2 linked regions of the Homo sapiens genome follow. The protein of the gene in region 1 interacts with the protein of each later gene in a pairwise test. Each region holds a gene or a part of one and is shown on either strand. Other genes may lie near its edges.

Evidence for each region.
Region 2: the proteins of NEK6 (region 1) and TASOR2 interact in binary tests that used the Homo sapiens proteins (3 or more experiments, as listed by UniProt).

The regions. Positions count from the first base shown.
Region 1 is NC_000009.12:124,348,120-124,351,948, reverse strand, and holds part of NEK6 (serine/threonine-protein kinase Nek6), read right to left. Parts: intron 1,113-3,829; coding exon 1,002-1,112; 3' UTR 1-1,001. UniProt on the Homo sapiens protein: Protein kinase which plays an important role in mitotic cell cycle progression. Required for chromosome segregation at metaphase-anaphase transition, robust mitotic spindle formation and cytokinesis.
Region 2 is NC_000010.11:5,757,639-5,761,168, reverse strand, and holds part of TASOR2 (protein TASOR 2), read right to left. Parts: coding exon 3,496-3,530; intron 2,283-3,495; coding exon 2,177-2,282; intron 1-2,176.

The DNA of each region.
Region 1 (3,829 bases):
TTTGTGAAGGGTGAGTGGCTACCATTTTTGGATCATCTACTTTTTGTATTAGCTAACTTGCATATTTTATTTCAAATTCTGTCTGTCAGCAATCCTGAAGGTAGATGATAGGTACTATTAATCTCATTGTACAGATGAGGAAATGAAGGCTCAGAACGGCTAAGAAACTTGCCCAAGCCCAAAGTCACGCTAGGAAGTTGCAGAACCAGAATTTGTAAAGGACAGCCCTTCGCTTTTCTATATCCCATGCTTCCTTCCCATGGAGGAAAATGCTTAACACTGATCATGAAATGAACCGCCAGCATTCAAGGAGGTGACGAAGTTCCTGGTACACAGCAGGTGTCCAGGAGAAGATGGCCCAGCCTGGCTGCCAAGAAGATGCTCCTGCTTCCCGATGCCTTTTGCCTGTGACACTCTGGCCAGGTGCAGGGCTCTCATCGTCACTCACCAAGTTATAAAACGTAGATAAAAATGTTAGCAGAATCACCACTCCACGGAAAAAAATGATTTCCACTTTATCCCTTTACAACAGAGTAAATTAAGCACACAGCTTGATTGAAAAGATACTAAGAACTAAACTGAACCCGGTACTAACCATTTTCAAAGGCTCACTACACAAATCACACGGTCTCCTGCAAGTCTCCTGTTAGCATAAGCCTTGACAGGTCACTGGAGGAATTACCCTAAAGATTCACATTACAATCCAGATACAGGGGGCTGCCGTGGCTCGCTGAACCACCTGCCCTTATTGACCCAGCTGAGATTGTCCACAACAGTATAAAGAAAGGACTTTGGAATCTGACCATCAGTGACATGTGGCCAGCGCCCCTCCCTCAGCTGCTCTGCCTTCAGCATCTGCTGTAAGGCTGGGCAGCCTTTTGGGGAACCTGCTGAACCCTGTGGTCTTAGCTGTTCTAGGCTACCAGGTGGCCACTCGAAGAGAAGACGACTCAAGTAAGGCAAAGTGGTGCTGGCTTTGATAAGGCACGGTGCATCCACGCTCAGGTGCTGGACATCCAGATGTGCATCTGCTTGGCCACCTGGTGCACGTATCCGATGTCAGGTCTCTGGTGGGGGTCAGGGCAGATGCACATGCTGACCAGTTCTCGTAACTGCAGGGGAGAGAATGGTGTGTTATTCTCAAGAAAGCAGTCTTACTGAGGCTCCGCACTCCACAGTCTGTCTGCATGAAGGCACTTCATCCTCAGAGCAACTAGATGGTCCCGTTGTCCCCGTTAGAGCTGAAGAACGGTGTTTAGCTGGGGCAAGTAAGGGGTGCGCAGCCGCATGGCTCCCAAGGGCTAGCCAGTACCCCTCCCAGGCCTGTCTAGTCCCAAAGGCTGTGCTTTGAGACCCTAAGAATGGTTAACCTCCAAATTATTTTGAACTTGTAGCTGTCCACACCATTGGGCAAATTGTGTGTGTGTGTGTGTGTGTGTGTGTGTGTCTGCTGTCAGTCACGCAGATGCCCAAACCAGAGGACAAAACTCAAGGCAAGGGCTTATTGATCATAATAAACGCATTAACATGCAGCAGGGCTGCAGTCTGCCCACCCCCGGCCCCTTTATTGTGCTCATGAAAGACGGAGCTTTTAATTATACAGACACTGAAGGCTGCTCCCGCCCCGAGGTGGGGGAGGGGCGCCTTGCGCCTCTGATCGCCTCCATTCTTCTGATAGCCGGAGTGCCAATTATTTTAATGGTAATTAAAATAATGACCTTAAAATGCCTACATCTTACCCTGCATCACGGGCTCACAGCCATTGGTTTCCATTTAAATACCTGCTGCTGGAGGGGTGGTCAGCCCCGCAGGCCACAGCAGCCGAAGCAGCAGCAGCAGCAGGAAGCTGGGTGGTCCTGAACCAGAGGGGGCTCTGGTGGTCTCAGTGGCCACACTCACTCAGGGACTGGGAAGGGCCCACGGGACGTTCTGGAGGCCCGGGGGCTACTGCTGCGCAGGCCCGTTAGGCTGAGGGATGGGGCCTGGGCTTCCTGTAGACTAGGGCTCCTCTCAGCTGATGGGGCATTTTCTCCCTGGGCCACAGAGCCTTAGGGTATCCCCTCGCACCTGCGTGCATGCCTTACAACCGAGAAGCCCAGGTGACACAGGGCCTGCAGCCTGCTAGGCCACTCCCGGAGTCTGAAGTCGCCTGTGGACAAGACAGCTGTTTTCTGAACCTTACAATATTCGGGGGAAGGTACCTGTGGTTGGCCTCTGACAGGTTAAAATACCCAAGAAAACCAGATTCAGGTGAAGTGTCTGTGACCCGAACTAATTTATGAAGTAAACGCACAGTTGTCAATAAGTGCATGTTTGAAGTTTTCAGAATTCAAGAGAAAAATAATAAAAGTGTCTTATTTTCATTTCTAAGCAGCGATATAACTTTAAAATAGGGTGTGCTGGGGGCTCCTGAGCACCACCTCTCACTCCTAAGCATGGGGCCCGGCGAGAGCCAGTGCTCCGGGGAGTGGGGGCTCGTGGCCAGGAAAGGGCTGACTTGGGACAGGGGCTTCAATGTTCATTTCAGCCTCATCACTGAAGTAGAGAGGGCGACTCCCATTTCTAGACTGACAGCCAAAGCACAGAGTTGTCACCAGCTCCAGTTGCACAGCTTCAAGCTTCTGAATCATACACAAGTCCGAATTCAGAAGATGAGAAAGGAAAAAAGCAAATGGCAACTATTAACTTTGTAAAGAGATGCAACTTGTTTTTCCTCCCACTGGGGAGGAGAAATACTTCCTCCAAAAGTGCAGGTCAGAACTTGGGAGCCAGGAGAGGAAGGGCACTGTGCAGCGCCCGACACTCGAGCTCCTCTAGCCCTGGAGTCTGCAACGCCAGCAAGCACAGGCTCAGCACAGGTGCCCTGCGAGGAGCCTCCGGCCTGGACACAAGCGCAGCACCCAGGACCTGCCCTGTGCAGTTTGGCCGGGGCAAGGGCACTCCTTCCAGAGCCTCACCCCAGCTAATTGATGGGCCACCAAAGACATGCCATCAAGAAGCACGATGGCTCCGTGGCTGCGCATGTGGGTTCAGATCCTGCCTCACCGGTCTTTTTAACTTGCCTGTGTCTGTCTGTTCCTTATTGGTAAATGGGTGAGGGGAAGATTCAACTCAGGAAGTCTGAACATGAGCTGTTATTATCGTGAGGTGACGGCCTGTGGTCCTATGGGGTGGGCCCACGGAGGCCCCAGACTCACCCACTAGCGTTGACCTTGAACAGAAATAAGGGTCACATGATATTTAGTGAACACTGACTGAGCCAGGCCCCATCCATTGGCCACTTTGGATGGTGGTGGCAGTGTTAGCCTGGTGCCTTACCTTAATCCTTATGCTGATCCTGTGTGGAAGATTTAATATTATCCCCATTGTATAGGTGAGGAAACTGAGACTCAGGGAGGTTAGGTGACTCACCTAGGAACAGTGCAGAGAGTGTGTGAACATGTATCTACACTTTTGACCCTGCTGTGCCAGGAAACCTGTCCTTTCTTCCTCACCATTATCCACCAAGGAGATTATTAGTCCCATCTTCAAGGTGACGGAGCCGAGGAATAAGATATTCACACATTCCTAGTAACTGGTACAGCCCCATGCCAGACCCATGGGAGCTGTGTCCACGGCTCCCGCAGCCAGTGTAAAATGTTGACAGTAGAAGCCCAGGGTGTTAAGTCTGTTATATAAGGAGGAAACTGACCGGTCCTCCTGCCGTAGTTTCCTGTCATGGGAGCAGAGTGGCCACCACTGGTGGTATGGGGACGCCAGGCCTGCCACATCCTGCCCCTGTATCAGTTCCCATGTCTGGCACGGCACAGACCCTGTCCTGGGGACCTGC
Region 2 (3,530 bases), on another chromosome or scaffold:
TCATGACACACTTTGGTTACCTCAAAACATCACAATTGTACCTACTCCTTTTGTAAATGTGGATTTTAAACATGGGCCTCATTCTAAGAGGGACATCATGCATCTACCTACGACCAATCAAGCCATGTGGCTTGGCAAGCCTTTCATGAATTTCGAGTGGGCCTTATTGCGTTGTATATTTGTAGAGCAATGCACATCTATACTTCTCATACCTTGTGGGCAGATAATCGCCAACTTCATTAAAATTAGGTAGCAGCCAGAATTTTCTTGGTTTCTTGCTTCCCTGAAAATTCTATCACTACTAGGAAAATGTGTTAACTCAGTATGTTTAAATTTTTAGCATTTCTGTCTCTGCTCGACTCCCGTCTCTCTAGTTTTCATCACTTACATTCTCATGCTTGTTGGAGAAAACCCAAATCACACCCATTCCCATAACCCTAGTGATAATCACTCTTAACATCATGAATTAATTTCCTTTCACTTTTTCCTGTATAAATTTTTTATGACATCATACTGAACATAGTTACATGATACCAACTTTTATGCCATCCCTCTTTCTATGAATAGAAACTTTTTACATGCTTCTATTGTGTAAGTTTTGGGTGGGCATTATTTTGTATAAACTTTAAAATATTTAACTGTAGTCTGCATATCTCCCTCCTAGAGATGGAACTGAGGTTGGTTTTGCAATGACTGATAACCACCTAGAATTTTGGGTAAATTCCACAAAAGGTCAAAGGATATGAAGAGTTTTCTAATGAGTTCTCAATAATACATAACGCCTGTTACATAATGCCAGAGTGGTATAATATGAAGAGCATACTGCAGCGCCAACAGCAGTGAGTACGGGCATGTACCACATAATGATGTTTCAGTCAATGACGGACCACATATACAATGGTGGTCCCATAAAATTATACTACTGTAATTTACTGAACCTTTTTTGTGTTTAGACACACAGATACCACCATTGCATTAAATCTGCCTACAGTATTCAGTACAGTCACATGTACAGGTTTGCAATCTAGGAGTAGGCTCTACCATATCAGTTTGTGTAAGTACACTCTATGTCTGCACATAGACAAAATCGTCTTATGACGTTTCTCAGGCTGTATCCCCGTCGTTAAGTGACATGACTTTCTCTACCCAAAGCCCTAGAAGTGCTAGATTGATTTATGCTTATTTTATAGGTGTGCTGTGGTACATCAGAACCTTAAATGTGCTTCTCTACTTACCGAAGTTGACGTTTTTCCCCTCAAGTGCTGGTTACTGAAGTCCGCTGTGAATGGTCATACCCTTGACCTGCTGAAGCCTTTGCACCCTCCTTTCCTGCCAAGGAAACCTCTGTGCTCCTTCTCTCCTTTGCTAGCTCCACTTCAAGAGAAAAGCTTTCTGAGATTCTGTTCCTCAAAGGTCACATACAGCTAACAGTCGTTTCGTCTTTCTGGGATTGAAACCCAGCTTCATAACTTACTACTTGTTTGACCTTGGTCATGTTTGTTATCTACTCTGCTTCAGTTCTGCATTATAAAAGTGAGGATTTGCTATCTAGCTCCTGGGGATGAAGTCTGAATGAAAATGGATGCACCTAACAGTGCCTGAAATCCTTATTTCACAAGGGCTTGTCAGGTCTGCTTTTCCAATTGGTCCTGCTTGTGAGAATGTGGAGGAATCTCTCAGCCCCAGCTCTCTTCAGCCAAGGAATCAAACATGTATTTTTTTCTTTTATAAATTACAGCTTTAGACTTAGTGAAGTTTGCGTATTTATAAGCCTCTTCTTTTAGGGTACAACTGAATTAAGGATAGATTATGGTCTTAATTTTTCCATTCTCCTTAAAGTGGTGGCAACTTATAAGTATCCAAAAAAGCATTAATGGTACAAGTTCCATATATTTTTTAAAGTTTGTAGTAGTAGGGCTTAAATAGAATATGGACATTTCATGACTGCTAAGTTTGACTCCCTTACTTCTGTTAGTCTAGATAAGTACATGCCTCATACTGTTGGCTACGGTCACAGCACATAGCTTCCTTCATTGAATACAGAGCCAGCAGCCCTCATGCTCTTTACTGATGAAGGCCATTCCACTGCAGCACTAGGCTAGAGCCCATGGAACATGAGGCGTTTCTCTGCTACCCCAGCAGGGCAGGAGGAACCATACACACAGCAAGTCCTTACCTTTCATCTTCTTTTAGCTTTTTATTTTCCCTGTAGTGAAGCAACCACTTCCATCTTCCATTTCCATTTAGTTTTTCCAGGATTTTGATAATTTCCTTCAGTTGAACTACAAAACAATAAATGTAGCAAAAGAAGATGACAAGTTTAAGGTACTTTTGGCTCATGCCAAGCCCAGTGATAATTATTTGTAAAACAAGAAAAAAACAGACTAAGACCCATGGTTGAGTACACACCATCACTGTCACTTATGTGGTTGGGCAGCATCCTGCTCTCACAAGCCCCTCAGCCTGGTCCCACCTGCTCACACTATGGTGGGAGATAACTCTGTAGACACGAACACAGTGGAGTGGTCACCAGCAACTAGAGTTCTGTGTACAAATTGTGTGACAGAAGAGAAGCAGGAGGCCCCGATGCAGTAGAGAAATGAAGTTTCTAAATACAGAATCCTTTTTTTTTGAGACAGGGTTTCGGCTGTCACCCAGGCTGGAGTGTGGTGGCATGATCTCAGCTCACTATAGCCTCAACCTCCTGGGCTCAAGTAATCCTCCATCCTTAGTCTCCTTAGCTGGGACTACAGGCACACACTACCACAGCTGGCTAGTATTTTTATTTTTTGTAGAGATGGGATCTCACTATGTTGCCCAGGCTGGTCTTGAACTCCTGATCTCCAGGGATCCTCCTGCCTTGGCCTCCCAAAGTGTTGGGATTACAGACGTGTGCCTACAAATATTTAAAATCCCAGGTTCTGTGTAGAAGTCACACTGGTTAAGGTACATGCTGCTTTTGATCTAGAAGTGGTATCACTTCCAATGTGATCAGAGCCGGGGCAGGTTTTATACATAAAAGTGCCCTGAGAGAAGTAAAGTATGAGTTTTCAAGTAGATGATTAAATAAGCTGACTTAGTAGCCATTTTTTAGATTTTTGTGACATCAAGATGGTAGGGGTGTTGACATCAGAAATGGAGAAGGTTGACTTTAAGCAAACAATTTAATATGGAGCTGCTCTGACTTGGCAAGTGAAGAGACTAAATATAATAAAATCCTGAATTTGTGTTACTAGGAGCTTAGCTGCACTACCGAGAGGGAGGGAACTCAGAAGCAAGTGTGGTGGTAAGAATCAGTTAAAAGAGGTGAAAAGCATTGCTATAAGAGAATCACTGTATGAAAAGAGCACAGCAGACAGCAGAAATTATGCCTCAGTAGGGGGCAACTGATATTCCTTAGAGTTGATCATTTCTTTTGGATGAAACAGTATTTAGGTCACTGGGTGAGAAGTTGATCTGACTTCAAAGAAACAGGAAAAGAAAATAAAGACCAACCTAATGTTACAGCTTCTAGTATCTTGTCATCTGAT